Linked DNA regions of Homo sapiens: all the other regions are reported to be linked to region 4. The links are microRNA targets in miRTarBase. Many come from high-throughput screens and were not tested one by one. Region 4 holds a microRNA gene; each other region holds the end of a gene's coding sequence.
What was found. The annotated mature microRNA hsa-let-7b-5p reads UGAGGUAGUAGGUUGUGUGGUU and lies in region 4 at 2,917-2,938, shown strand. An mRNA with a match to its seed (bases 2 to 7 or 8) in the 3' UTR can be bound and repressed. Matches are read on the target gene's strand: a 7mer-m8 pairs with bases 2 to 8, a 7mer-A1 pairs with bases 2 to 7 and ends in A, and an 8mer does both.

Region 1: miRTarBase lists FSTL1 as a target of hsa-let-7b-5p. The part of its 3' UTR that is shown has no 7-base or 8-base seed match.
Region 2: miRTarBase lists TAB2 as a target of hsa-let-7b-5p. Seed matches in the 3' UTR shown: 7mer-A1 at 438-444.
Region 3: miRTarBase lists GDF11 as a target of hsa-let-7b-5p. The part of its 3' UTR that is shown has no 7-base or 8-base seed match.
Region 5: the mRNA of GEMIN5 is a reported target of hsa-let-7b-5p. The part of its 3' UTR that is shown has no 7-base or 8-base seed match.
Region 6: miRTarBase lists MIOS as a target of hsa-let-7b-5p. Seed matches in the 3' UTR shown: 7mer-A1 at 3,518-3,524.
Region 7: miRTarBase lists WLS as a target of hsa-let-7b-5p. The part of its 3' UTR that is shown has no 7-base or 8-base seed match.

The regions. Positions count from the first base shown.
Region 1 is chr3:120,393,224-120,397,566 of GRCh38, forward strand. FSTL1 (follistatin like 1) reads right to left here. Exons shown (of 11, transcript NM_007085.5): 11 at 1-3,773. The coding sequence ends at 3,729. MIR198 (microRNA 198) reads right to left here and starts at 2,506; the gene lies at 2,445-2,506. It also overlaps the pseudogene BTNL12P.
Region 2 is chr6:149,409,442-149,413,763 of GRCh38, forward strand. It overlaps TAB2 (TGF-beta activated kinase 1 (MAP3K7) binding protein 2), which reads left to right. Exons shown (of 7, transcript NM_001292034.3): 7 at 136-2,166. The coding sequence ends at 278. Among named protein-coding and RNA genes, the nearest start is that of SUMO4, 11 kb to the left of the region's middle.
Region 3 is chr12:55,749,169-55,753,511 of GRCh38, reverse strand. It overlaps GDF11 (growth differentiation factor 11), which reads right to left. Exons shown (of 3, transcript NM_005811.5): 3 at 1-4,010. The coding sequence ends at 3,630. It also overlaps a transcript of SARNP not described here. Among named protein-coding and RNA genes, the nearest start is that of GDF11, 8.2 kb to the right of the region's middle.
Region 4 is chr22:46,110,775-46,115,095 of GRCh38, forward strand. It overlaps MIRLET7B (microRNA let-7b), which reads left to right and starts at 2,912; the gene lies at 2,912-2,994. LOC124905135 (collagen alpha-1(III) chain-like) reads left to right here. Exons shown (of 2, transcript XM_047441696.1): 2 at 1-3,154. MIRLET7BHG (MIRLET7B host gene) reads left to right here. Exons shown (of 5, transcript NR_110479.1): 5 at 1-3,154. MIRLET7A3 (microRNA let-7a-3) reads left to right here and starts at 1,975; the gene lies at 1,975-2,048. It also overlaps MIR4763. RefSeq lists an enhancer at 3-536.
Region 5 is chr5:154,884,186-154,888,528 of GRCh38, reverse strand. GEMIN5 (gem nuclear organelle associated protein 5) reads left to right here. Exons shown (of 28, transcript NM_015465.5): 28 at 152-1,118. The coding sequence ends at 319. Among named protein-coding and RNA genes, the nearest start is that of CNOT8, 28 kb to the right of the region's middle.
Region 6 is chr7:7,606,345-7,610,687 of GRCh38, reverse strand. MIOS (meiosis regulator for oocyte development) reads right to left here. Exons shown (of 13, transcript NM_019005.4): 13 at 1,756-3,692. The coding sequence ends at 3,596. Among named protein-coding and RNA genes, the nearest start is that of UMAD1, 32 kb to the left of the region's middle.
Region 7 is chr1:68,122,707-68,126,706 of GRCh38, reverse strand. It overlaps WLS (Wnt ligand secretion mediator), which reads left to right. Exons shown (of 12, transcript NM_024911.7): 12 at 372-1,347. The coding sequence ends at 481. All of the region lies in intron 8 of GNG12-AS1 (GNG12, DIRAS3 and WLS antisense RNA 1), which reads right to left. Among named protein-coding and RNA genes, the nearest start is that of MIR1262, 59 kb to the left of the region's middle.

The DNA.
Region 1 (4,343 bases), not on the chromosome of region 4:
TAATATCCCAAATCCAATCAAAGTGATCCAGCTATAATTTTAGGAAAGCAAAACTTCCACATGACTGAACCGAAGAAACCTTAAACCTCATTGACTATAATATGCTCTTTTGGGAGGCAGAATTATTGTGGGTGGAGAGTGCATGATACATATGAAAATGGCAGGTTGGAAAGCGTTAGTCATGTGTCCCCAAGCAAAAGAGGTTTTAACCAGCTAACGTTCAGCCCACTTGGAACTGTTTACCCCCATGGAATGTGTGTATCAAGGAAGTGCCATTAAGGTTATTTAGCCTGTCCCTGGCAATGATTCCATGTTCCCTGTACTACCTTCCCATGTTTATTTGCCTTCTCACAGGCTACTGCAGTCAGCCTCACTGGATGCCATTTAGTCTCCTAAATCATATGGGGGATTTACGAGTCATTTAATTTAATGTCTTCCCAATACAGGAATGCACCTGCTATGGTTTGAATGTTTATGTCCCCCAAAATTCATATGTTAAAATTGAATCCCCAAAGCAATGGTATTGAGAGGTGAGGCTCTTGGGAGATGATTAGGTCATCAAAGTTTAACCCTCATGAATGGGTAAGTGCCCTTATAAAAGAGGCCTAAGGGAGTTTGTTCACCCTTTTCACCATGTGGGGATGCATCAAAAAGGTGCATTCTTTGAAGCAGGCAAGCTTCAACAAGCCGTCATCAGACACTGAATCTGCTGGTACCTTGATCTTAGGCTTCCCAGCCTTCAGAACTGTGAGCAATACATTTCTGTTGCCTATAATTACCCAGTCTGAGGCATTTTGTTATAGCAACTTGAAGGGACTAAGACACTTTCTGACTTGTCATCACCTTCTACTCCAGACCCACTATCCATGATCCTTTCAAAGAAACTTGTTCTACCAGTCCCCGAGTAAACTTTCCATCCAAGCTGTAGTCCCAGGAGAAACTCTTCAGTCCTTTTTAAGGCTCCTGAAACTCAAATCCACTCTTAGGAAGTAAATGGGTAATGTTCTCACGACTTTATTTGGCCTTAATTGGGGGAAAGGAAACCAATAAAACCATCACTTTAATTTCTTTATTCATCAATAGTATCCGAAAAGGAAGAATCAGGAGTTACAAAAACAAGTTAAATGCAATATAGAAGCCTACTAAATACAAATACAAGTTCACAAACACATATGCAACAGAAACTTGTTTAGATTGTTTCTTGAAGTTTGACTACTTAAAAACATAGGTGTAAAGGAAAGACATTCAGACTGGTCCACGTGGGCTTGTTAGCAGGCAGAGGAACCCTGCTTTCCAAAAACTGATATAGTCCAGAGTCACGGCATGTGGGAATGTTTCCATGGACACTGGATCTTAACAGATGCTATAGTGTTTACAAAACTACACACACAGAGAAAGCCCAAGGAAGCCTGCAGGCTAAGCCCTATGCTTTTAGAGGGCTGAAGGAACCAAACCTAGTTTAATCCTGTTTGTTTGCTCCATGCAAAACTTTATGGAAGACTCCCCAGACTAGGCTATTTAGCAGCTTCCATGAATGGTCCTCAGATCATGTGATTCTACGGCATAGACGACAGCTGCCCTATTTACACAGAAGCTGCAGAACTCAAGAGGAATGTGGATTTGCTCTTGGGAGTTCAATGTTGCAGGGTAGAGTAGTCTTGGATGATAACCATGTTCTAAATGACTAGTGAAGAGACACTGTGGTTTCTTGCTTTTAACAAATTGGTGTACTCTTGCCCTCCTCCCATAGTGTCCAAGGGCTGGTAAAACCTTTGATTAAGGCGTGCTGCTGTGAGTTCTCCAAGGCACTTGGACAGGGAGCTGCATTTCAGACTGAACAAGTGGAGTTTGAAGAGTTTTTAGATGGGATGGATACATAAAAGCTTGAAATGCTAAACAAAGTGGAATTTTCTCCTTTCAAATGAGAACAAGAAAAACTAGAAGGAATTCTATTTTTGGCACAACAGTTTCTCACAGTTGCCTGTGCATTACAACCTAAATAATTTCCTTCTGATGGTCTTTAATCTGCTTTCTGCAAATGAGATCTTATGTCAAGGATTTAATCTTTGGTATTCCAAATGCATCTGAAACAGGGTAGTGAGTGGGGTTAATAATCACAGAAGTCGAAAGACACAGGACTAACTGTAAATGACTGACCTCCCCAAGTCACAGTTTTAGGATTAAATCTCCATTTTCTTCCCCCTGTTGAATCTGAAACTTTCTTTTATCCTCATCTCTAAGGGAATGCTTTCTATTTCCAGCCGGAGGTTAAACATGAAATGCAAATATGAAGACAGAGTGGGGTGGTTCTCTTTCCCACTCTCTTCCTGCTTTACCCATGAGGACTCCATATCATAGCACGACCTGTAGGGTCATCAGGCTGAGATCAAATCTGGTCATCTTGTTTTTGGCCATCTGACATTTCTTGTTCTAGTAACAAGATTTCATTTATTCTATAGAGAAGAAGGAAAAATCACAGGAACCTATCTCCCCTCTGGACCAATGATCAGAACCACAGAATTTATAACTTATCAAATCAAAAGGTTAGTGCATTCTTACCAGCTCACTGAGGAAACTGAGGTCCAGAAAAAAGAAGAGACAGGGCCAACTCACCCTCCTAGTTAGTCGAATGAGCATATTGGTAGGCTGGGATATCCTAAGCCCTGCTTGGCTGCCCTTGTCGCCATCCTTGGGAATACTGATTTGCCTCAACTTCTCAGAATAAATAAAAACAAATTAATGTTTGGATCTTGAAAGTTTTTTATGAAGATGCTTCTTCCCCTGGCTTCGGTCTAAGGCACCCTTGCTCCTCTGGCAGATAGTGGACTGCTGGAAGCTAGGGGGGCCAACTATGGGCTGCATCTAGTATGTGGCAGGGTGGGGGCATCTGGGTTATTTCAGCCCCTGCACCAGGAAGAACCCCAAACTCCTTCCACCTATGAAGTGGTGGGACTACTGAAAAATAATTACAAAAGCTTAATACCTAGTCAAGAAAATAAAATATTAAAAAACAATAATATAATGATAATAATTGAAGAATAAAGTCAACTTGCCAAAAAAAAGTGTTTTACAGAGAAATAGCACCTTTGGTAAAAAGTATTTTTAAAATTTGGTTAGGTCGCTAAGGGGCTCAAAGTATACAAGTATCTGCATCATTTGGGTGTACCCTCCCAGAAACTCCATCCAAGTCTGAGGGACACTGGGTTAACTAGCAGTATGGCTATGTATCTAGAGGCAGTTATTGGGACCAAGAGATGCGTGGATGCTGGAGGTCTGTCATGCTGACGGCAATGGAAAGAGGCTGGAAGCAGAGAGCGTTCCTCTCCGTGGAGCTTCCCAAACCTCTCCTCCGGGGACACCCTGCTAAGTTCTCTCTGGCATCGTGTGCACTCCCTGCAGCCTGCTGACAGATGCAGTAAACTCAAAAGAGGTTCAGATTTGGGTCTGTTCCTCTTTCAATCGTGATGCAGTTTCCTTACTAGCCTCCAGCCCCAGAGCACCATTTACAGTTTCTCTTAAAGCACTCCTAGAAATGAAGGCTGTGGCCCTTCCCTTCCTAGCCAGCCACCTTCATATCCTTTATTGCAAAACAAATAAACAAAATAAAACTCATTGCTATATAAGCAAATACTGGTGATTTGGCGACTGTAGCAGACACTTGTGTATACTGAACTCAGCGCTGAAGTGGAGAAGATGCTGGGATCCAGACACTGGTCTGTGCCTCCTCATTAGATCTCTTTGGTGCTCACTCTCTTGGTCTTTTCAGCTGTTTCCTTTGAGATGCAAGAGAAAATAGGCGTCATGGAAATATTAAACAACTGTTGGAATTTATCTGTTCCTCAAGACTATATAGCATTGGCATTTACAAGCTTATGCTGAATTTTAGTTGTTTACTTGTCGGGCTCCTCCACGGACAATGAACAATTTGAGAACAAGAACTATGGCCTATTCATGACATGGTCATGCAGGGGCTGTTTACTGAATTAAGCTGACTCCATTTGGACTCCTATGAAACAAGCAGATCAGACATTATGGTTCCCATTTTAAGGATGAAGAAAATGATGTTAAATGGAAATGCTACAAGATGTTCTTAATCCAACAAGTCCAAAGAAGTGTTAAGTACAACAGGTTCTGGAGGCAGACTGCCTGAGCTTCAACCATGGCTGTGCTACTTTTTGGGTGACCTTGGGCATATTATGAAATCTTCTGTGTCTCAATGTCTTCAACTGCAAAACCACAGTAATAAAGTACCATCTCTTACAACAGTGCCTGGCACAAAATGGCCAATAAGGACATAAGAAGATGCTCAACATCATTAATCACACGGGAAATGCAAATCAAAA
Region 2 (4,322 bases), not on the chromosome of region 4:
TCAGTGTCAGCTAGATGCCCCATTTGGGGAGCAAGCTGCATCAGGCTGTGCACTACAAATGGTGTTTAAAGTTGCCTGTAATTTTTTAGACTTTGTGATTTTTTACTTATAAAATAATTTTTTTCTTTCTTACAGATCAAAGGTCCATCATCAAAACACCAAAGACTCAAGACACAGAAGATGATGAGGGAGCTCAGTGGAATTGTACCGCCTGTACTTTTTTGAACCATCCAGCCTTAATTCGCTGTGAACAGTGTGAGATGCCAAGGCATTTCTGAGCCAAATGGCCCTGTATCTTCTCTAAAACCACATCTAAAGTTCAAGAAACTAGTCTGTCATCGGGAAAAAGTTTCACTGCTACATAGGATTTTGTCAAATTGAAGGTGTGACAAGATGGTGTTCTGCTAATGTTAAATGTCAGCCCACAGAGCTAATAATACCTCAGTATAATGTCATGAGCAGTTGAAATTCATCACATGAAAAGTAATCTGCTGAAAGACTTGGTTGCCCACTGCCTAACTGTGTACAGTGTTACCAGTGTCCCATTATGGATAATTCTCAATATGTTAACACCTAGGTGTTCCCAATACCTTTTTCCCCTCATGTCACTACTGAATTTTGACAGGAGGAAGGAATAGAATGATAGCTTGTTTTATTTGTAAAGCTTTCAGTGAAACACTACATACACGAAGAAAAGGAACAAGGTTTAACTATTTAAGAACCATTTGCTGCCGCATAGTGCCATTGGATAGGGAAGAACTTCAGAAATCTGTGGTACTCTTGGCCTTGTCTTTGTCTTCCCTGAACGTGTCTCCACTCTGTGAAGCCAGCATCTAGGGGCTAAAGATGCAAAGGAAAGCAGCATGCATTGTCTGTACAAATGTGCAGCGAAATACCCCAAAGCTTTTCCTACTGTACAGATCTCTCGAGTCTGCTTTAAGTGATTTCTTTTCTTCTTGATTATTTTCTTATATTTCTATATGTATAGTGTAATAGCCTTTTGTTAACTAATTTTCTTTTTTCCTTTTAGTAATTAAGCACGATCATGTCCCTTTTTAAGCCTTACCTGAGAGGAACAATGCCTTAAAATAAAAAAGCATTAATGAGATGAAAGTATGCACAGAATAACTTTCCTCTACTTATTCTGTACTTTGCCCTCATGAGTTCCAATGTTGTGTGAAGACAGGCAGATGCTGCACAGTGAATTGCAGATGATATTACAGAAGTGATGTCTGTAGGTCACATTAAATACTGACTTGAGCAGTGGGTGACACAACACAGTGTTTGTCTTCCACAGGGAAGCTTAAAACAAAAGATATTTTTAACCCACTGACAGAACAACAAGGTTAAGCTTCATCTGCTTGGTGTCCCACAGAACTTGCACAAGCAGTTGTTATTGGGAAAGTACAGTCTCAAAACCAGCAACAGCAGCAGTACCTACAGCCCTTTTTTTGGAGAGAAGTTTAAATGCTTTACTGTTGGGGCAGTCCATTTCTAATCCTGACTTGGTGACAGTATCATGTGTATTTATAAAACAAGGCTAGCCATATTTAGGACAACTGAAGAAAAGCTGGAAAAAAAAACAAGCAAACTTGAACACTGAAGCAACCTCAAGCATCTCTTTATTTTGATGATATATTTTTGTAAGGAAAATATTCAGATGATCAGGAATGTATATAACTGAAATCAAGAAAAAGAACAGTATGCATTTAAAAAGACAGAATTATGAAATTATATGAGTGCTTAGAATGGGGCTAAGGGAAGTGCTGAAATAGAGCAAAGGATGGAAGATAATATAGACTACCACCCACTGTAAATGTTTGCAAGTGGCTGTGTTTTAAATGGGATTATTACAGTTGATCTCTATGAATGTCAGAGCCCTAACTTTCAGGCTTTGCATTTTGTATATGGGAAGAAATATGACAATCCTAGGTAATTAAACCATAGACCCAAAGCCCTTACGTTTGATGCAATTTATTTTTAAAATAGGCCTTGTTTTTCAGCTTCATCTGCAGTTCTATGTGAAGATTGATAAATCAGTTTTTACTTGTTTTATTAATAAAACGTAATTTGGATATCTTGAGTTGATGGTTTTGTGATTTAGCTGGGTAAACTATCTTTGTAACAGATAAGTTATTTATAAAAATTAAAAAACTTATATTCTAATGTGGATTTTGTGACTTGTTTTCAGTTTGTGGGACAGGAGATAATTTATACATCAGCAGATCATTTAAGCATTAATGGAAATCAGGGAAAACTTCTTCTCTAGAGTCTCCTTGTGACATTGTGATACTCAGCTGCATTTCTTGGACTGTTTTTATCAATTTCCCTAGACTTCTTTTTTCATAGTTTATGATAGTTTTCCCTTTTATTTCCTTTGGATTTTTCAAAATTTACCGCATTGTTAAAGACAAATGTGATTTATTGGACCATTTAACCTGAAGTAAACATTTAGTTAATATTTGTTCTGTCCCTTGATGTGTAATGCAGGTCATGAGGATGGTGGTGCTTCTCTTGAAGAGAACTTTTATATTTACAGTTTTCAAAAAATTACAAAAACTCAGGTGTTTTTCTCAGCCTGAAAAGAACAAAGTAGTATTTGCTGATCTCCCCATGATGCAGTTGTAGAAAGGTCTGCCTTGAGTGGTCTTTTAAACTTAGTAGAAAGGAAATACTCAATGCCAGTGAATATGAGGACTGGACATGTTGGGCATCTGGAGACCACTTTTGGGAACTTCATTGCCCTAAAACAGAATTACAAGTGTAAGAACCTCCAATCGAAAGATGGACTTCGAAGTATTTTTTTGACACAAATTATCCTTCATCTGTATGTTTAAAGGGGTTTGGGGGTAGAGGAATTGGCAGTTCATGTAAACTAGACTTCTCAGGAAAATTTTTATATTAACAAATTGTCAGCCAAATGTCTCCTGTGACAACTAATACGTTAGACAAAGATGTGTGTTATATTGCAGGCGTTTGAGGGAAAAAAGTTGAAATTTTATTTTTCTTTTAAAATCTTGTTTAACCTGTGTCATCTTTGATCTAATATTAATTAACTTTATATTGGGGAAATTATGCAGAAAATCAGCTCCATGGGTAGTCCAAAACTAATTGTTAGCTTTAAACCTACTTAATCAAAGCAGCTATAAATAGCAAAACTAGCTGACGTGTCACCAGTTTTCTCTATCCCAATGTAATGTTGACAGGCAATTCTAGTGAGCAGGGATAGATTTAAGAGGTAAACAGTATAAGATAAAATATTCAGACTGGGCACAGTGGCTCACACCTGTAATCCCAGCACTTTGGGAGGCCAAGGTGGGTGGATCACTTGAGGCCAGGAGTTTGAGACCAGCCTGGCCAACATGGGGAAACCCCATCTACTAAAAATACAAAAATTAGCCGGGCGTGGCAGCACATGCCTGTAGTCCCAGATCCTCTGGAGGCTGAGCCATGAGAATCACTTGAATTCAGGAGGTATAGGTTGCAGTGAGCCAAGATCGCACCACTGCACTCCAGCCTGGGCAACAGAGCACGACTCTGTCTCAAAAAAATAAAATAAAATAAAATAAAATATTCAGCCCATGAGTAATGGAAGTAGGCCATATTGCCGTAGAAAATAATGTAGTGACACTAGAGACTACTCCAGATTTAATATCTATATGCTGGATATCGGCATAGCTTCCCATATAACATCACAAAGTACTTCTATTCCTGTATGGCAAATGAATATATTTTTGGCTTCAGCTTTTTTGGTGCTACAATTTTATATCCATTTTACTTGAAATGGCTCAGCTGCATTTTAATTTGTATTGCTTCCATCTGAAAATACAATTAGACAACTGAGAGAAAAGGCCTAAGAAAACAATTTTGTAGTGAGTTTTTGTATTTGTTATGACCTCTCAACTTTATTATTTATTTATTTATTTATTTATTTTTTGTGGTGTGTGTGTGTGTGACACAGAGTCTCACTCTATCACCCAGGCTGTAGTCCAGTGGAGCAATCTCGGCTCACTGCAACCTCCGCCTCCCAGGTTCAAGTGATTCTCCTGCCTCAGCCTCCCCAGTAGCTGAGTTTACAGGCACACGCCATCACGCCTGGCTAATTTTTTTTGTATTTTTAGTAGAGACGGTTTCGCCACGTTGGCCAGGCTGGCATTGAACTCCCAACCTCAAGTGATCGGCTCACAGCCTCCCAAAATGCTGTGATTTCAGATGTCTTCATTAGATTTACTCTGTAATCCTGGGACAGTTCCTTGTTTATATTGCCTCTCCTTGTCGAACGAAGGTGATTAGATTAATGCTAAACTCACCTCACAGGGGTG
Region 3 (4,343 bases), not on the chromosome of region 4:
AGATGTAAGCCACTGCGCCCAGCCAGCTTTCCTTATTTTTGAAAAATGTGAGTCAGGCAATATTCTTTTGCCATTCCCAACTCATATTCCTGGGGAATTGTGCTCTAGGTACATGGGAAAAATTTTTACAGTGAACTGAAAGAATATTTGAGATGCTATTTTAGCCACTCTTGTGTAACAAGGCAAGTTCGTTGGCTATGTTGGTTTAGATTTTTGTCAAACTTCGTTGAGGAAACCTAGGAACAGGGACTGCAGGAGAATAGGACACTAGCTGGATCATCTCAAGAGAACCTTTAGATCTTCCATACTAGCTGGATCATCTCAAGAGAACCTTTAGATCTTCCATTCTGTGGAGGCTGGGAGAGGGGTCTTGTTGTCTTTGGGACTGTTTTGGCTCAAGCTTTTCAGAGAGGGGTTGTTCTAGGTACCCCCAGTTTCCTGTCCTCTTTCCATCCTTCCTTGGCCTGCATGTCCCAAACCTTATACCACCATGCCCTTAGTGTTTTCTGTCTTGCTCCAGGACCCCATCTTCTTAGTCATTGAACACGAGGTTTCCTGTCTCAGATCCTCTTCACCTCCGGTTCTCCAAGGTGTAAATGTGGCACTTGATTAGGGAGAAGAGCTCAGCACTGAATTCTAAACTCTTTGACCGCTTTTATTTTTTTTTTCAGGTTCAAGTGCTGGATTGTGTCATGTGACCATCCCAAAACTCAGAGCACCCTATGGCCGTCTTTGCCCTCTGTCACATAACTTGAAAACTGCCTGATGGCCTTTTTGCAGTGGTTCCCTCCAGGAAGCCTTGATCTCAGTTGAAGAAGTTCTTTCCTGGCATTCCAATGCCCCTGTCAGCTCCATACTCCTCAGACACCCTTAACAAAGGCTGTCATGCACACAATGTGACAAATACACAAAATAAATGATAATTACACTAATAATGATATGTTCAGAGGGGCACTGGCCAGGTCCACACACATCATAAGGTGGGAGGGGGTGCTAACTCCCACTGGGTTGCTGAGCTGTGCCCCCCAAGTCCCTTCACTCTGTGCCTCTTTGGGGGTAGGGAGGAACAGGGGAATGAGACTTCAGCTCACAGATTTATGTTCATAAGAGAAAGACCCCTGCCCCCCCCCCACCCACCACACACACACAAAGGTCTTTATTTGGTGGTATTTAAGGAGCTGTATTCTAAGTGTCCCCCATATTTAATGCCCCAGCTCTCTAGAATCTGTAGAGGGAAGATACCTGATGCTTATTGCCCAATCCCTACTCTGCCAAGATCACGAGGCATTTGACCTTGGAGGGAGGTATCTGTTCTTCACTTCTCTGTTCCTTTCCTTCCACCAAGGAAATGTGAGTGGTGTTGATGGCCGGGTGTGTCTTGTCCTTCAGGATTGGGGCAGAAGGAAGGATGAAGAACAGGGCCAGAGAGGCTTGGGGTTAGCATAGCTGCTATATGGGTGAAGGCAAGCTGAAGAGCCTAACAGCCCTGCCCATTCCTCTACTGAAAGATCTTGTTTCACTTTCTCACTATAAGAATAGGAATAAGATGTTAAAGCTCACCAACATCACCTTCTCAAGGGTGGTCACATACCTTTGCCCCTTCCACCAACTGGCCAAGGGGGAGAGTCATGCTCTTGGGAAGAATGAGCCATCCAGTTTTGCTCACCAGCTTGGGCTTTACTTTAGTTCAGTACTGTTTTTATCAGACCCGTAACTGCTGGCTCTACTTAGAGTGACAGTTTTGCTGAAGATTCTTACCCCCACCTCTCCTGACATCCTCTAAGCTCTTGCCTGGAGCCAAGAGGCCTGGTGGTGAAGTAAGGATAGGGTGTGGATCAGGAGATTCTCAACTCCTTGGCTTCTAGGCACTGTCCAGCTGGGAGGCAGAGGGGAACTTGTACTCTGAAGCCTGTGACTCCTCTTAAGCCTCACATCTCTTCACCACTACTCTGGTGCCCTGGTTATCTGTCCCACAGCGAGAGGTATTTTATGTCCATAAAGTGCCCGTGGTAAGTGCTCAGAATTCATCTCTTGGCTGTGGCGGGTGCTGTCATTTCTCATTCCATTGAGGGGAAGAAACTGAGGCACAGTGAGTCCAGAGGAGAATGGGTCAGGGTTGTGGGAGGAATGAATGGGCCTAGCTAGTGACTTGAAATGGCAACCAGTCTCTGCCTGCTTCCTAGCCTTCCAAGCCCGGGAGTCTCCATCCTTCCCATCCTCTGTTCTAACTGGCCTTGTCAGATGCTTTTCCCCACTGTACTTTCCCCTCCCTGCTGCCAGGTACTGTTAGATTCCAAAAATAAAAGGAAAAAATAATTATACACTCTGCTTCCTTGTTCTCCCCTCTTCCACCCTGAGCTTTGGGGTTAGGAGACTAAAATGTCCCCCTTCCAGAATCCTTCCCACCTTGGTCTGCTGGCTCTATTCCCTAGCCCAGAGCAGTGATTTGGATTCAAATGCCCTGTAACCTTCAGCCTCCTTACTGCTCCTTTCTTGACCTCTCCTAACGCTTTCCAGACCCAGGGGACTCTGGGGTCTCTATACTCTCTCTAATTGACCTGAAGATAGAGGCTGGGAGCAGGGCCATTCCAGAGGCTCTTTGGTCTCTCTCTTGGCTGAGGGAATTTGGGCATAAGCAGGCTGCACCCTCTGGCTAAATAACTCAGCATCATGAGGGTGGACCTGAGGGTTTAAAGTAGCTCTCATTATATAGATCCTGGATGTTGAGGGTTCTCTCTCCCACCCCCGCATCCCCAGCTCTTAAACCCTAACCTCTTACTATTTCCATGACAACTGGCTTCAATTCAAGCCATTTGGCTCAGAAAAGGTTGAGTTAGGGTGATGATGGGTTAGAAACTAAACTTCATGTGTCCGCCCTCTTGCCCTTTACTCCCATTCCCAACCCTGGAGGCTTTATACAAGTGCTTAAGTGAGTAGGTGTTGGGGAGAGCAGGGTTTGGGGAATAAGGGATAAACGGGGCACAGTGGGCAGGGGCCCTCCTATTCCAGTAAAGCCAAATACCAAAAAAATGAAAAGTCACAATAAATAAATAAATAAAAATTCCCAAATCTTTTTGCCCCTGCCCTCACTTCCCCTTCCCCTGGCCACTGTTGGAGGGAGAGAAGGAGAAAAGAATGGATTTTTGATTTCTTCTCCTACTGAATAGTCAGGGGATCTCCCCAAACTATACCAAGCCCCTCACCTTGCCAGTGGAAGAAAGGAGGCTTGGTGTGGGGCTTTCATTTATTACTCCATTTCAGTCTCTTTCTCAGTGTTTTGTCTCTGCCTCGTCTGTCTCTTCTGCCTCTCTCTTTGCCTTCTCACTGCTGCTCTTTTTGTTCCTCTGTCTCTATCACTGTCTCTACATCTCTCTGTCTTTTTGTCAAACCTTCTCATCTGCAAACTTCAAACACTCCCCACCCTGACTATGCCCCTGCTTCCCCTTTCCCCCAAACCCCTCACCCTCAATTCCCACCTGCCTCCCTCTGTTGTATTGCACACGGCTTGGTCGGGGAACGGTGTGATGTTCGCGGGAAGAGTGGAGGGAGCTCTAGGGCTTGGGGGGATGGGGGCAGGGCTAGGGGTCTTGGGGTAGGGTCTGTGGGGGAGGCATCCTCTATCCCCCACCTTAAGAGCAGCCACAGCGATCCACCACCATGCCAGGGATCTTGCCGTAGATAATCTGCTGCTTGTCATTGAAGTAGAGCATGTTGATTGGGGACATCTTGGTGGGGGTACAACAGGGCCCAGCAGAGCCTCTTGGATTGGCCTGCTGCACCAAATGGGTATGCGGATATTTTTGCATGAACATGTACTCGCACTGGCCGGAGCAGTAGTTGGCCTTGTAGCGCTTAGGTGCGATGATCCAGTCCCAGCCGAAAGCCTCAAAGTCCACTGTGAGGGGATATCGGCAGCAGCGGGACTCGCTTGAGTGCTCGTCGCAGTCCAGACCCAGGTTCCGCCGGGAACGTTTTGTGTTCTCTAGGACTCGAAGCTCCATGAATGGATGCTGAGGGTCAGGGAGAGGGGAAAGAAATGTGATATGGTCCTGAACAGTTCCTCTTCCCTGTTCCTTTCCCACCTGCCAGGGGCATCAGAATAGAGACTGCTGACTTCTCAGCTTTTCCATTGCTCCCACCCCCAGAATTTATCTTTTGCCCACTTTTCTTGCCAGCTAGCTAGCTCTCCTTCAACTCACCATCTCTAATTCTTACTCTTCTGGCAACCTGATCCCTGTCAGCCCCTTGGCCCAACGCCTCAACAGCCAGTTTTTTTGTTCTCACAGCTCTTCCATTAACTGACACCTTTACCTTCAAATCCAGTTTTCAGCTGTTGTCTGATT
Region 4 (4,321 bases):
CCAGCCAGGGGACCCAGAATTGGAGCAGGGGAGCAGGACCCCCAGACCCTCTCATACCGCTTTTGTTCTGAGGCCTTGAGGGAACACGGGGTCTTCGCGACCCCAGGCGAGATGATGCTGGGACAGAGGAGGGTCGGGCTGCATCGGGGCCCTCCTGGTCCCCACTCCTGGGTGAGTCAGCATCTCAGTCTCCAGTTCTGGGTGGGCGGCACCAGGTGTGAGCCTCAGCGGTCTCCTTGCTGGCTAAGGACCTGGGATTTGCTCCAGTGCCCCTCGGGAGGGAGTAGGACACGTGCCCAGAGAGCAAGCAGACCCCCTCCCCGACCAACTTCTGAGAGCAAAGACACCTAGAGCTAGAGATTCAGCACCCCCTGAGCCTCAGTTTCTCCACTATGAAGTGGGATCCGTGATCTCAGCCTTACCAGGGCTGTGAGGATTAAATGGTCCAGCCCAGCCTGGGGCCTGCCTGGAGTAGGCAGCCTGCTCAGGATGGGCTGTGGAAGGAGGGCTGGGGTAGACCTTTCAAGTCCACTTGGGCATGGGGAGCTGAGAGCTAGCATGCCGTTTAACTTGGCAGGAAGCAGGCCGGGCGCAGTGGCTCATGCCTGTAATCCCAGCACTTTGGGAGGCTGAGGCGGGCGGATCACGAGGTCAGGAGATCAACACCATCCTGGCTAACACGGTGAAACCCCCTGTCTACTAAAAATACAAAAAATCAGCCGGGCGTAGTGGCGGGCGCCTGTAGTCCCAGCTACTCGGGAGGCTGAGGCAGGAGAATGGCGTGAACCCAGGAGGCGGAGCTTGCAGTGAGCCGAGATCGCGCCACTGCACTCCAGCCTGGGGGACAGAGTGAGACTCCATCTCAAAAAAAAAAAAAAAAAAAAAAAAAAAAGCTTGGCAGGGAGCAGGACATTTGGACCTCACTCTGCTGCCCCCTTGGCTGTGTGACATCCAGGTCACGTTGCCTCTCTGGGCCTCGGTCTCCTCACCTGTTTAAGAGGGGTTGACAGTCGTATCTGCCCCCTCAGCTTTTCCCCAGGAAGGTGGTAGCCACAATTAGCATTTGTTGAGGCTGACCCTGCACCAGGCCCAGGATAGGCGGGGCTTAGGGAGGCCCGTCTCTCGCCACGTTCCCCTGCTAGGGGAGCCCCGAGGCCCTCTCAGTGTCATCCTCATGCTACACTCTGTCCCAGCCCTGTGCGTCCCAAGCTAGGGCACTGAGTGTGCCAGCACCCGCAGGGACAGGCACTGGACCCTGGGTGGACCTGAGGGTCTGTGACTACCCCCCCAGCTGCTCTCCCCTAGAGGCCACTTCCCTCAAGGAAGGAAAGAACCTTCCCGCCACCTCCTGCAGTGCGGTCAGCTCAGGCCAGCCTGCACAGCAGGGCCAGAACCAGGGCCCCTGGGGAGGGATGCCTGCCTGCCCAGTGGGAGGAGACGGCACGCCCGTGAAGCCGCTACTCAGCCAGCCTGGGGGCCACGAGTGCTGCTTCTGGTGGCGCTGTGCGGGGAGGGAGGGGGCCGAGCAGGGTGGGCACTCGCATGCCTGTGTCTTGCTGGCCTTCGACAGATGACAGCCCTCCTCCTAGGGTCTCCAGTGCAGAGTTCCTTGGGGACATTATGGCCACTCCTGTCCAGATGAGAGGGAGCCGGCTGCCTGTGACAGCGTCGCAAAATGCCGCCAGGGCTTTCCCTCCCTCCTCCTTTCTCTCTTCCTCGTCCCTCTCTGGTTGGTGGTTTCCTGCAGGCTCCCGTCCCTGCTGGTGCTGGCCACAATGTCCCCACTCCCAGGGTTTCGGCGTCCCAGCCCCCTGCGCCCACCGCGCCTGCCCGCCAGAATCCCTGTGCCCTTGGTGCGTGTGGCCTGCCGAGCCTCGAGCCCCTGTTCTCCTCAGCCCTCTTTCCTCCCGCGTCCCCAGGAGGTGCCTCTGGAAGCCACGGAGTCCCATCGGCACCAAGACCGACTGCCCTTTGGGGTGAGGTAGTAGGTTGTATAGTTTGGGGCTCTGCCCTGCTATGGGATAACTATACAATCTACTGTCTTTCCTGAAGTGGCTGTAATATCTGCGGTGGACAGAGCGTCTGGAACCCTGGCTGGGAGCGGGCAGGGCCAGGTTTGGGGGCAGCCTTGGCAGCAGTCGGGGGCAGGGGCCGCCTACACTGAGAAGTCTGACAGGCCTAGGTGCCACTTGCTGTGTGACCTTGGACAGGCCCCTGATCTCTCTGGGTCTCAGTTTCCTCCTCTGTAAAATGGAGGCAAATGAGGATGGAAGGAGATGCAGTGTGGAGCATCGAGGGCAGAGGAGAGCTGAGCCGACCCCACCCTCTGCCCCAGCCGCACTGAGAGAGGCGATCCACGCAGCTGTTTGTCTGACCTCTGTCTCCCAACACTCCCCAACACTCCCCCCGCCATCAGGCCCAGGCTCATGGGTGGCCCTGAGCCGTACCCTCCACTGAGCACCAGGAGAAGGCACCGTGGGGCCAGGGGTGGCCGAGACGTTTGGAGGTCACAGGGCTGCGAGTATTGGCGTTGCCCATCACCCCAGGTTCCCAGCACGTGCCCCAGCCTGGCCAGCTCAGTGGCAGGGCCTCTGCCTGTGGAGGAAGGGAGGCCAAGGCACCTTTCCTGAGCAGGAAGTGAGAGGAACAGCTCTGCATACACTGGGTCCCACATGGCACAATCTGAAGGCAGACAGTGGCTCCTCTGTACCTGGGGAAACTGAGGCCCAGAGAGCCAGGGACTTCCCAAGACCAGCCAGCAGCAGCTGCCCCTTCCTGGGGTGCCATCTCCCCTGTCCCTCCTGCCCTGCGCCTGCCCAGCCCTCCTGCTCTGGTGACTGAGGACCGCCAGGCAGGGGCTGGTGCTGGGCGGGGGGCGGCGGGCCCTCCCGCAGTGCAAGGCCGGGCCTGGCGGGGTGAGGTAGTAGGTTGTGTGGTTTCAGGGCAGTGATGTTGCCCCTCGGAAGATAACTATACAACCTACTGCCTTCCCTGAGGAGCCCAGTGACACGACCCCATGGGAGGGCCGCCCCCTACCTCAGTGACACGACCCCACGGGAGGGCTGCCCCCCACCTCAGTGACCTGCAGGGGGCCTGAGCCGAAGCTGGGTGGGCATCTGGGAGCTAGATTCAATAAAGCTGTTCTGACCATGAACTTGGAACTGGCCCCTTTCATTCTGGAAGCCCAGGGACTGGGCTCTGGGGCGCGTCTGCTGCGGGACAGTGTGGAGGCCCCTGGCCACGAGCTGTTCCAGGTCATGAGACTTGTCTGCTCACGCCTCCCGGTGCCTCCAGAGTCCTCAGTTGGCTCCGTGCTGTACCCTGGGCTCAGGATCCCAGGCCCAGCCCGTTCTCTGCCCTCTCGTGCTGCCTTTGAGCCAGGCGGGCTGAACACCGGGACCCAGGCCCGGTGGAGAGGTCCCCACGGGGCAGCCACCAAGGCCCCAGGTCAGCAGCTCAGAGCACTGCCAAGTCCTGGCTCCTGAGGCCACCTCCGTGCCTTAAGTGCCTTGACCAAAGTCTGGACGTGCCTGTCCTTCCGTCCTCCCTCAGGACAGTTTCCAGGGCACCCGTAATTCCTCTGACAGACTGCCATCCCAAAAGTGCACCCATTCTCCTGGGAGGCCTCAGGCCCTCGTCTAGCAGCTGCCGTAGGCTGGGCCCAGTGATCCCGCCCTGGGCATGTGGGGTGGGCTTGTTCATGCCTGGCCCAGCACCGAGAGCCCCTGGTGGGGAGGGGCTGATACAGCTGGGCCCACACCTCCCCCACCCAAGTGCCCATCCTCGCCCCTCCTGTTGACCCAGGCCACAATCTTGGCCCAGATTCCCCCCTGTGCCCTCCTGGCCTGCCTTGGTTCTGCAGGCAACCCCAGCCCTGCATGGCCACGTCTGGGCAGACCGGCACCCCTACCCTGACACCCATCTGTGCCAGTCCTGCACGGCAAACACCTCAGAGCCCAGGCCTGCCTACCCTCCCGGAGCTGCTGCCACCCTGTGGGCCAAGGGCAAAGGGACGTGGAGGAGGGGCCCAAGGGCAGGGAGGGCTTCCTAAAGCAGGGACCATCTGAGCTGGGTCTTGACAGCTGCGTAGGAGTTTGCAGCTGGAGATGAGTGACGTGCCCCATGGTCCCTTCTCCCATCATCCTCTGGGGCCAGAGTGGGTGACACATGGGCACTGTCCAAATCCCCTTCTTCACCCCATAATTAGTCAGCAGCCACATCTGGCCACTTCTGTCCTCTAAACACCATTTCCATCCCTCCCCACTCCCACTGCCAGGCCTCAGAGTCTCAGAGCAGCCCCCTCTGTCTCCGGAGCAGATCT
Region 5 (4,343 bases), not on the chromosome of region 4:
GAAAGACAGGACATTGCCTTAGGAGACAGCTGGCTCAGCTGTGTCCAAGAAGTGTCTATAGATGAACCTGAGTGACTGGTGCCTTCTGTGCAGGTGTTTGTGGCTCTTCTGCAAATGCTTCCTTATTCATCCTCATGTCATCGTCTTTCAGGCCTGGCCCTTCCCAGATGTGCTGGAGTGCTGCCTCGTCCTGCTTCTCATCAGGTCCCACTTTCCTGGCTGTCTGGCCCAGGAAATGCAGCAGCAGGCCCAAGAGCTCCTTCAGAAATACGGCAACACGAAAACTTACAGAAGACACTGCCAGACCTTCTGTATGTGAATTTTCACACACCTTGAAGAAACTGCCAAATTGAAAATGTTTGACATCTTTCACCTCTGCAGTTATGCCTCACCAGACATTCACTCTGGTCCCTAGATGTTTTTGCAGTAATCCAAAAGAATACAAACAAGGATTAAGTTTGAATCAACCCTGCCTACCCATAGACAACGGTGGATCTGACTTTAGACTCAATTGTGGTCTCCTACTGGAGGGAAGATCATGAAAAGCCCACAGTAGTTATTCAGAACTAACACCTGCAGAGTGTTGGTCATCTCTACAGCCTTAGGCAGGTTTCACCCAAAGAGGAGAAACTTCTGTCGTCACCCAAAGTGTTACATGCTTAAAACACAAGCTACCTTTGTAAATACTTCATCTGATCAGAAGTGTGTCATGCTTGTTTGAGATGGAGTTGCTGCATTTTAGGACTATTGATACCTTTTTTTAATTGTTTTTATAATATTTAATTTGAAAGAGGAGACCCTTCTCTCTCTACTCTTTCATAGACTGAAGTTTGAATATGAAATAGGCCTTAACCATCATGTTGACTCTCCTGTCAGAATTTTAGGTTGGAAATTTGGTTTTATTCTTTCATGTAATTGCTTATTTGAACAGATCACTTACTAAAGCTTTAGAAGAAGTGATTCAAATGTGTGTTTTCCCTTCAGTTTTATAACAAATGGATTGATGGCAGTCAAATAGCTCAGGAATAAATTACTGTTTCAATGGTTCTTAAACTTTCTTGGATCATAGGATCCTTTTGAGAATCAGATTAAAGCCAAAGATACTCTTTGGAGAAAAATGCATATTCCTAATTTTGCATAGATGACCTTTGGATTATTGGACTCTGACTATTGGGACCCTAAATACTATTTAATTATAAATCTTTTTTTTCTCCTCCTTGGTTATTTAAACAGTTGAACAGTGTCAGGAACAGATGTTTCTGTAATGTCACAGTTGCTAGCATGGGAAAATCAGAGTCTGGCATGGGTGTAGGAAGGAACACTCCTTTCAGATAATTGAACTGTTTTCTCTAGGATTCATTGTGAAGGCTTTTCTGCTCACGTTTGTAGTTTATTTTTCAATTAATTCCTAGGATTGGAGCTGTTGGGACAGTGAGAATGAAATTCATTTACAGGAAGTCCCAGGAAGGAGAAAGTTTGAGGCAGTTTTCAAAGACGTGTATGTGCCTAGCATTAGAGTTTAATAAACTCACAAAGGGAAATACTGTAGAATTTAGATCCTCACAGTTCTTCATACAGTGAAGTGAACTTTAGGAAGACGATGCTTTGTTACCAGGGATGGAGAATCTTTCTTGATTGCAAAGACATAAATAGGCATGGCTAGGTAGAAAACCTAGCCTAGTTGGTAGGACACCAGTTCTACCAACTGCTAAAATGAACTTTACTTACAGAGGTGGAAAAAATATATACTCCCTTCCACTTGAGTAAAGAGTGATATTGTTAAACTAGAATTCTAAATTCCTTTGTGATCTGTCAGAAGCATCACCTGTGGGTGGAGGAGTCCTGCACACTCCTCAGTTACTGCTTTGGTAAGAACAAGATTATCTATTTGAGTCCAGGCATGGTAGCTCATGCTTGTAATCCCAACACTTTGGGAAACCAAGGCAAGTGAATCACTTGAGGACAGGAGTTTGAGACCAGCTGGGCAGTATATATGGAGGCAGTATATATTTGAGACCAACATTTGGCAGTATATATGGAGGGGCTGAATTGCACTCAGTTGCCTGGTGCTATGGTGCACGCCTGTACTCTGGATACTGTGGAGGTTGAGGTGGGAGGATTGCTTGAGGCCAGGAGTTCAGGGCCAGCCTGTGCAACATAGCAAGCTCCCATCTCTATAAGTAATGAATAAACTTTTTAAAATGAATTATGGCCAGGCACAGTGGCTCACACCTGTAATCCTAGCACTTTGGGAGGCCAAGGCAGGCGGATCACCTGAGGTCAGGAGTTCGAAACCAGCCTGGCCAATATGGAGAAAACCCATCTCTACTAAAAATACAAAAATTAGCTGGGCATGGTGGCACATGTCTGTAATCCCAGTGTTGGAAATAAGAGCTCAGAGTCACAAAGAAAATGAGCACTCAAACAAAAGACTTCTCAGCAAGGCAAATTTACGTCCGCAGAAGGGTGCTGCTGCCTGCACCAGTCACAATCACAAGAGCACACTGAACAAAGGAGAGAAAGGTTTTTATCCCTAATGCAGCTTCTGTTTCTGTATCCTTTTCCCATTGGCTGGAGTCGGACCACACAATTTAAGCTAACCTGATTGGCTAAAACTTGAAATTTTTCCAAATAGGGTAGACAGGGAAGAAGGGGTAGGAGTGGTAAAACTTTTCCAAATAGGGTAAACTGAAACCTTTAAACACGTAACTTGTAAAGAAAGGTTGGGAGGGAGGGATTGTCCATTAAGGCATATTTGGGCATGTTTAGGCACAGCAAAGATGGAAAGTCTTGTTTAGAGAACAAGAATTTATCCTTTCTAGCAATGTGAAAGGACATTAGTTGCTAAAAGGAACAAGGAAGTTTGAAGAGGAACTGATGGTTTGGCAAATTTCCCCCTCTTGACTTGGTAGTTCTTCCTCGTCAAGTCTCCTTAACATATCTTGACTTTATTGTTCCTCTTAGTCACTCAGGAATAGGAGCTTATCTGAGTAGGGTGGGGGAGAAGCAAGAGGGGTTTTGGTGAGAGCTTTTTCTATGAGTCTTTGCACTAATCCATGAATACAGGGTATAATGCAGCAACCTACAAGAATAAGTACACCTATAACAATTGCAAGGGGGGTAAAGATTGAGGTTATGAGTCCCTTCCATTTGCCAAACCATTTTTCCATGAGATTAGAGAAGGGGTCATTTACTCCAGAATTTTTGGCCAATTCATTTGCTAGGGCTTTTGTAATTGTTCCATCCGGGGCTGTGTTGTTGGGGATAAAAGTACACCATTAGACTCCAATCATGATATGGACCCCACCCTTCTCAGCTAATACCATGTCCAGGGCTATTCAATTTCCCAGGCCATTAGGCTGGTAGGGCCTAATTGTTCAGCTATTCCTTTAATGGAATCCCTAGTATAATTAGCAAACCATTGTTGATTATAGTTAATGTAATTTATCCAGTCTACATTTTTGTTTGCAGTTACCCATGAGAGCAATATAGATTCAAATCCTGCAGGTATTTGATTTTGGGTTTTAAACTCATTTGGCACCCCTCATGGAACTCCAATGGCATCTATATAAATGTGAGGGTCAAAGGACATGTAAGGGGGACTTCTCTTAACAATTGTTCTTTTTGTTTGGTTGGTGAAATGCCAGGGTGAAAGGGATGGCCAATTGGATTAGAGTGCAAGTGTCCCTCCAGTTACTTGGCAGAGTACCCAATAGTGGCCCACCACAATACCACCATAAATCCAGATGCTCAGGGATGAACAAGGGCAGACTTATTGGTTAGCTCCTGAAAAGGCTTGGACTCACTACATCCCATTAGGCTTCCAAGGAATGCCAAATTTTCCCCCTGTCGTGAGACACGTAAAATTTACATTGTTAATCGGAGGCCCTCGGGCTGACCTACAGGGCCTTTAACTTCCAGAAATAGCAGCGAGAGTTTAGCATGCCTTATTCCCCCGGGCTGTGGGGTTTTGGAAGAGAGCTACCATACAGCTCAAGCCCTGTTGGTTGGAGGTCCATCCGAGTGGAAAGGGAACAATTTGGGTTTCTGGCTTACCTGTTGCACAAGGGTAACAATCGCTTTTATTTAGGGTGTGAATGGAATATTTAATCCATTCCAGCCAGGCATTAACATCTTGATATCTGGTTTCTATGGCTAAGGTTTGCTTTAGGTCCATGACTTCTACTATGGCTATTTTTTTATTATTAGGTAAGAAACGAAAAATGGTTTGATTTGGTGGGCGTGGGGGAGGTGAGTTGGTAGGAGACGGAGAAGGGTTAACAAAACTTTTTTTGTTTTTATTTTTGTTTTGTTGTTGTTTGTTTGAGGCAGAGTCTCTGTCG
Region 6 (4,343 bases), not on the chromosome of region 4:
GCACCTGGCACATAAAAGGCATTAACAGTAATTTATATACTGCTGCATTTGATGCTAATTTTACTTGTGACTTTATCATGTTAAAGTTGTGTTAATTTGATATCTGGGTTGTTAGCTTTTAAAAACCTTGGGAAGCTTTCCTTCTGTCGCTGTACTCTGGGAAAAGTAGTATTTTATAAAAATTAATATATTTGTAAAGTGCTACTTGTTATAATCAACAAAGTAACCTACAACATTTTCAGGTAGGAGAGAAAACTGGCAGATGATGTAATGGAAGGAGTGAGTAGTGGACAGGGGAGCTGCTATCTAACAAGGCCTGTTTCTGTCATTGTGATGTGGGTCACTAGACTTGATACAAGATATTGACCCAAATATGTGCCTCCTACCTCTCTGATGCCTGTCTGAGCAGATGTCAGAAATTGTGCCCACTAGCTTTAATTACGGCTATTCCGGGACAGCAAGTCTCACAGTATACTTTTGAAATTATCACTACCACCCCAACATTATAATTTAAATGAACATCAAGTGTAATAGAATGGCAGAAAAAGAAAAAGTACACAGAATAATCCTGGATACTTTCTCCAAGTATCCAGATTAGGGAGTTCAATTTAAACGTAGTTAAATTAAGAGTTTAGACATAAAACTTAAAGTTTTCAATAGTCAGTTGTTAAATTTGCCATAATTTTTTCCTCTGGGTTCATTTTTATATCACATTTAACTCTTAGGAGGTCATTTGGAGGATTTTTGCATGCAGCAAAAACAGTAATACTATAAATTTATCCAAATTATGGCATTTTTCTTTTGAGACAGGACTTAGCTACTTTTGTTTACCCTATATTTGGAGTATAACTATTATTGGGAATTTTCACTCTTTTTAAGAAAATCTATTTCAGCTAACTCACACCAAGGAAATTTTCATTCTTGAGACAAATGTAGATTCGTTAAAATTATAAGTATTCATTATACTTATAATTTTAACTATAATTAAAATTATACTATAAGTATTCATTGAAAAAGTACTGATACATGAGCAATCTATGAAAATGAAGGTAACAATGACTGCTAATCACTACCATTTATAGAGCACCATGTGACAGGGATATGGCACTTCATGTTTATTGCATCACCTAATACTCCCACACTCTGAGGTAGGTATTTCTGTATCTTTCTTTTAACATATGAAGAAACTGAAGCTCAAAAAGGTCAAGTCACTTACCGAAGATCCCGAGGCTAGGATTATAATTTATGTTTCAAAGACCATGCTTTAACTACTTGCAGTCAAATGAATGACTGAAATTGAGTCATCTAATTAAATGAAGAACTACATTCTTTTAAATACTTACTATGTGAAGCATTGACAATGGGAAGCTACTTTTAAAATATACCATTTTAAAGGATAATAACTATTCTGGAAAGTGGGTTGAATTGAAAAACAGAGCCTAAAAGGAATGTTACTTCTAATATTAAGTATGAAGTCTGTCATCAAAAAAAGCACCAATATTACTTCACGTGGATTATTTGTAAAGGAATCATAATTTCTTGATTAGATACAATGACTTCAACCCAGATTTATTCAATCTTTTAAAAATAATAAAAACACTTTTAATAAACACATCTATTGATCATGTTTAGGTAAAGTATCTTGTTGAGTTTATAAACCCAAATACCAGTGACTTAGTGATAAAAATGAGAAAATAATTTGATTGTCCATGCACACTGAAATGCAAAACAGACACCAGAGACATAAACTGCATGTTTGGGCTTCACAGAAAACATTTAAGAGGTTGACACATACATACAATCTTAAAAATGTCACCCTCATATATTAGGATTACAAATAAGCATATTACATAATAGACTTTACATTCATGTTTTATACTGTATTTCCAAAACTTGTAACTATTTGAGATAATTTTACATTTTACTTTAGCTAATGAGAATGAAAATGCATATGAGTCTGACATTACTTAAAGCTGACTTTCATATTTAAGACAGTAAGTTTGAAAGGAACACTTCAAATGAAATATTAAAGGTAAAGGGTATATGTTAATAAAATGAAATCAATTAAGATTTACTCAAATGAAGGCTGGAAAAAGTACCCTTAATAGCAATCTTTAAAAAAAAATTGCAATTACCATGTCTTTCATTTGAAAAGACTGTCATGCAGGTGAGACATTTAGAGTAAATATGTACTACTTCCAATGTTTTCCTAGAAAAGGGTTTTATGTATCAGACACTCAAGGTAAAAAATAAATTTAATCTACTTTTAATATTTAGGTTACACCTCAAACTAATCTGACAAATCTTAGTTTTTATAAGGCAAAACTGCTAATACGAAAGCTCTTAAAATTCTTGTTTTATTTCTCCAAAATCTATAAAATAAGATTTACTCTTTATGAACACAGCTTCAACTACAAAATTCCTAGTTCAGTCCCTCTGCATATGGCAGATGACAGAGAAGCATCTTGTAAATTCTTTGTATTTCTCTTACAACTATCTAGCTATGAAATGAGAAAAAAAAATGTTTTAAATAAAGTACCTGACTTAGCCCCAGTAACACTTACATTTAAAAACTTACATCTAAAATGGTCTCTGAAGTGACCCCATTTCCCCAACACTTCCTAGTCTACCTTGGAAAGAACAAGGTATGGTATTCCAAATCAGGACGGAATTTGACAGCACAGAAACACTGACATAGATTATACTAAATGGCTAGTTACATATAATCTTGCATAGACTTTGTATGCAGTAAAATGTTCTCAGGTGATGAGGATAAGATGACAAATTAATATGGAGAAAAACCTTTGAAGACAAATCAGGACATTGGAAGGCAAAAGGTAGAAAGTGAAAATTTTGTATGTTCACCTGAAATGGTACATGTTTTTCTCTACTGAAGAGAAAAAGTTGTAAGATAGATTCTTCATCTTGGCTTTTCTAGGAAGACGATAATGTTATGCCAAAAGATTGCTTATCTTAAAATCAAAGGAGGGAAAAGGCTCCTTTAAAAAATACATATTTATACATACACACATAAATATACACACACACATAGACACATATATAACAGACAGTAATAAAAAATATTCTCCAGTGTGGGATAGGGGCTCTGCAATTCTAAAAGTAAAAATCTGTAATTTTAAATTAATCTGAAAGAAATCTAAGCACAGCTGAACTTAAAACTATTGTCTGAATCACAGAATTAGTCATTTTATTTTAAAAGTGCACATATTTTATTGAAAGATATCCAGTTTCAGCTTTGAAGATATAGGCTCAAAGTCTGTTCTTGGCTCTTCCAGAAATTCTGCTTCTAGAGTGTTCATAATTTCAACCAAAACTTAGAAAGTTTTTCTAAATCAGACTTTTCAACCTGCTGAACAGAACTCATGTCTATACTTCGATGTTTATTTTGGCAGCATTTGTCTCTGTGAAGCATATCAAAATCACTCAAACATCAAAACTGCTGATCTGATAGAATGATTTATTTTCCCATTACAGGTAAGTCATGAATGGCTTGTTCTGAGGTATGTTTCTGAGCTATGAAGGACACCTACTAGAAAGCTCCACACTTGAAGGGTTCTCTTAAGGTGGTAACATTTTATGGCTGGACAGTCTCTGCAGGTACCAGATTCCCTGTTGTATCCAACTGCATACATTTACACGTGCATGCCGACACAGGGCACTCTGCATGGTCCCTAAAAAAATAGGTCAAATAACAGTTAAAAATCCAAATTAGACAGACATACATTTATTTATTTATTTATTTTTTAAGAGACAGGGTCTCCCTATATTTCCCAGGCTGTACGCACACTTTTGGGCTCAAGTGATCCTCCTGCCTCAGCCTCCTGAGTAGCTGGGACTACAGGTGTGCACCACTGTGCCCACCTGTTTACTTATATCTATCTATAATGCAACTTTTCAAAATGGCATTTGGAAAAATATAGAAACTAAAACCCAGAGAAAAAAAGCATCAAAAGCATCAAATTATAAACTACTGCCAAGCTGAAGTTTAGGGAGAAGTTAAGAAACACATACCTTTTACTTTCTACATATATGGCAAGATATTTCATTTATAGTTGTGAAGGTGACAGGGATGTGCTCAGAGTTTAAATTAGCTAGTAAGACAAACTGGGTATAAATGCTGTATCAACCAGGAGCACAGGGCCACTGGCACCATTCAAAATGAAATTCAAATATGTCTTGACAGTCTTAATTGCGTGACTACATAAAAAGCTTACTTAGAAGAGAACTGAGGCAGAGGTATGATATGCTCTTTTAACATTTCATTAGTAATTCAATTGCATGGTAAATTACAGAATATTCAGTGTAAAAACTGTAAACATATC
Region 7 (4,000 bases), not on the chromosome of region 4:
ATACTGCCTACTTCAGAGGGCTTCTGCGAGGATTAAAGAAGATCACTTACAAAGTGATTAGAATAGCGTCAGGCACAAAGTAAATGCTCATTAAATGTTAATGATTACTATGAATAATATCAGCAGTGAGCTGACTCACGTATCTTAATGACTGTCATCTAGGAGCCAAAAATGGTATTTTAAAAAGTTCTGCAAAGTCCAAGTGAACAGGTTTGGAGTTAGTCCTTGTTCTGAATGTTGTGTGCCCTAGGTGTCTCTGTGTGCTCAGAATGTCAAAGAGGGCTAGCATCAGGGCAGTTGTCCATGAGATGAACCCCAGCTTGCTTCTCCTTCCTCCTTGAATGCATCTAACACCGAAAACCCTGTTTCAGGCGATCTGGGTGTCCATAGTGGGGAAGAACTCCAGCTCACCACCACTATCACCCATGTGGACGGACCCACTGAGATCTACAAGTTGACCCGCAAGGAGGCCCAGGAGTAGGAGGCTGCAGCGCCCGGCTGGGACGGTCTCTCCATACCCCAGCCCCTCTAACTAGAGTGGGGAGCATGCCAGAGAGAGCTCAATGTACAAATGAATGCCTCATGGCTCTTAGCTGTGGTTTCTTGGACCAGCGGCATGGACATTTGTCAGTTTGCCTTCTGACGGTAGCTTTTGGAGGAAGATTCCTGCAGCCACTAATGCATTGTGTATGATAACAAAAACTCTGGTATGACACATTTTCTGTGATCATTGTTAATTAGTGACATAGTAACATCTGTAGCAGCTGGTTAGTAAACCTCATGTGGGGGTGGGGTGGGGGTGTATTCCTTGGGGGATGGTTTGGGCCGAATGGGGAGTGGAATATTTGACATTTTTCCTGTTTTAAATTCTAGGATAGATTTTAACATCCTTTGCGGTCCCAGTCCAAGGTAGGCTGGTGTCATAGTCTTCTCACTCCTAATCCATGACCACTGTTTTTTTCCTATTTATATCACCAGGTAGCCCACTGAGTTAATATTTAAGTTGTCAATAGATAAGTGTCCCTGTTTTGTGGCATAATATAACTGAATTTCATGAGAAGATTTATTCCACCAGGGGTATTTCAGCTTTGAAACCAAATCTGTGTATCTAATACTAACCAATCTGTTGGATGTGGGTTTTAAAAAATGTTTGCTAAACTACCCAAGTAAGATTTACTGTATTAAATGGCCTTCGGGTCTGAAAAGCTTTTTTAACTTCTTGCTTAAAATGCGTTTTATTTTGATAAGATACTTCAAATAGCCTCCAAAAGTGTAGATCCAATCATTTAAATAAACCTGTATGTATATGCATATGTGTACATGCATATCCCCTCCTGCTAAAACTCATACACATGCGTGCAGATTATTTTCCAGGTTGAACCTAGAGGTGGGGAGTTGATGGGGGAAATAGGTTTCTGAAAAACTGATATACTTTATCATCAAATCAAAGTGTTTGGGGATAATACCTATTCCTGGAGAAAGAGTGACATTTTCTGTCCTGTGTGGTTAGCCTCCCTAGGCTGGCAAGGGATGCTCATATGCGTGACAACAAAGGTGGGGAGAACATCACGTGCTTTAGAAGCAGAGCCGTCCTCTGCCCTATTCAGACTTTCCCCAATAGCCTTTTTCGTTGTATTTTAACACTTGCACTGGAGATAGCCGAGAGAAGGAACACTGTTTCCTGTTGAAGGTCTGTGATTTACATCTGACCTGGCTATTTCCTCACTTATATCGATAAACTTTAACTGCTTACTGGGGTCACAGTGAAAATTTCAATCAGTTCATATATATGGAAGTGTTTTATGAACAGCAAGCCACATAAATGTGTTTTTCCTGGAGTCTAAAACCAGTTTCATGAGTAACTTGTTTTTCAGACACTGAGGTCTGGAGGTCTGGGGCACAGTCCATGTAATTCACCACTCAGCACCCCTAGCCTGCCTTTTCCTGACTTTGGCTTAAAGCGTGGTAAGCAGTGACAGTAGAAAATGCTTTGACTTTGGCTATTCTCTCTAGGCCTTTTCCTAACCTGGTGGACATTGGGATGGTGTACGATCCTGTGCACTCAATATCCACTTACCAATCAACCACTGCAGTGCCAGGAATCAAAGGGAGCCGTGCCTCCCAGTCCAGCAGGGAACTCCTGTCCCAGAAGATAGAGGGAACGTTTCTCTATCCCCTGGGTTAGGAAAAGGACTTTAGATAGACCTTAAAGGAGAAAGATTTTACCAGAGCCAACGGGCAAAGGGATCAGCAGTACAAAAATCATAGAAGAAAGATGCAAAGCATGGACAATGTTTGGATAAGGTCGGCGATCAGGCCTGGCTGGCACATAGGAATGGAAATAGCAGATGATGAGCCCTGTGCACCTGTGAGCCAGATGGAGAAGGGTTTTTAATGCTGTGGTAAGAGTTACAAGACTTAGCCTCAGATATTAGGCAGAAAAGTGATACGATCAGAATGATCACTGGAGCCTGGAGAGGCTGGACAAGCCCAGAAAAGAGATCACAGAGACTGGAACCAGGACAGTAGCAGAGGACTTGGAGGAGAGGATTATTTTGGAGATAAAATGCACAAGGTTTGAATGTTCTGGATGTGGGTTGCACAGAAAGATCGATCAGAGTCAAATTTCAAGCCCTCGCTGGGGAAGGGAATGGGTGGGGTTTCGGACAGAGAGAGAGATTCTTGGATGACAAATGTCAGTGGATTCACTACTTAAAGTTTTCTAAGTAGGAGCCAACTCTAGCAAGCTTAGCTAAGAGACAGACTGTACTAGAACTTTCCTAGCATATATGAGAGATCCATGGAAGAGTTGAATTAACCAGGAAGATGGGAAGTGGGGCAGCTCTAAGGGCCCCTAGCACCAGGAATCCATGCACCTTTCTCTCAGAGCAGTACCATTCACTACTGAGTCTTTATCCAGTTCTTGTTTCTCTCACTTAAAAACAGGAGTCTTAGGCAGGTGGCTGTCCCTGTGCCAGTCACCTGTGACCAGGAAGTCAGGTCAAATGGCTGCTTGGGGCCTACCTTATAGATCGGTGTCCATCTCCAAAGAATGGAGAATCCATTTTGAATTGGGCAAACAATCAGAAAAGATCTAGCACAGTGGGCAAGATGATGAGTTTGGGTTTGCCTGGGCTAGGTTTTAAAAGCCATCTCTTTGAGGAAATGAGCTAACAATTAGAACTGAGGGGTCCAGCAGATTGGGCAGCCACCACCATTGAGAGGAAGAAGGACAACTGGGCAGAGCAGTAAAACATCAAGCAGATGACCACCAAGAGTGGTGAGCCAGACATGGCCATATTCTATAGGAAAGGGGAAGAAGATAAGGTGGATAAATCAGAGAAATGTGGGGTTTCAAAGAAAGAACCAGATTCATAAGGAAAAAAGACGAAAGAAACAACGTTAGATGTCCTCAGAGGTTCAGCAGCATTTAAGGATCCAAGTCTCTTGGATTTGGTGGTTTGGATGTGTGTAACCTTCTTAAGTGGCAAGGGCAGAAGGTAGACAGAGAAGTGTAGCAGAGTCAGTGGGCAATTGTGGTGGGAAGGAAGGAGGTAAAATGGTTGCTCCGAGAAGAGCCAGAGTAAAATGGAGACTTGTGTTTTTTAGTCCGCAGGGAAGTGAACTAAGTTTGTAAACCTGAAGGGTGAGATCCAGCCATGAAGGAAAGATGTTGAGGAGCTAATGTAAGCCACAAGCCAAATCAGAGTTTTGGGACCAAGAGTACAAGTTGATGAGTTAGCATCGAAGGAGTGAAAAGACACTTTCATCCTGAGACAGGAGAGAAATAACAAATAGACAGTGGAGGAGAAACTTGAGGTCCAGAGGAGAGGGGTTGCAGTATGTCCCCTGGCTGTTCTGCCTTCTCCACCGATGTGTAGTGGGTGTTGGAGTTTCACTAAAGAAGTCTCCATTTCAAGAATGCAGGTTGGATGCAACCCATTTCAATCAGTGGAAAGAGAAGTGGAAACTCAAGAGGTGAGAAAATGCTTTTAGTAAG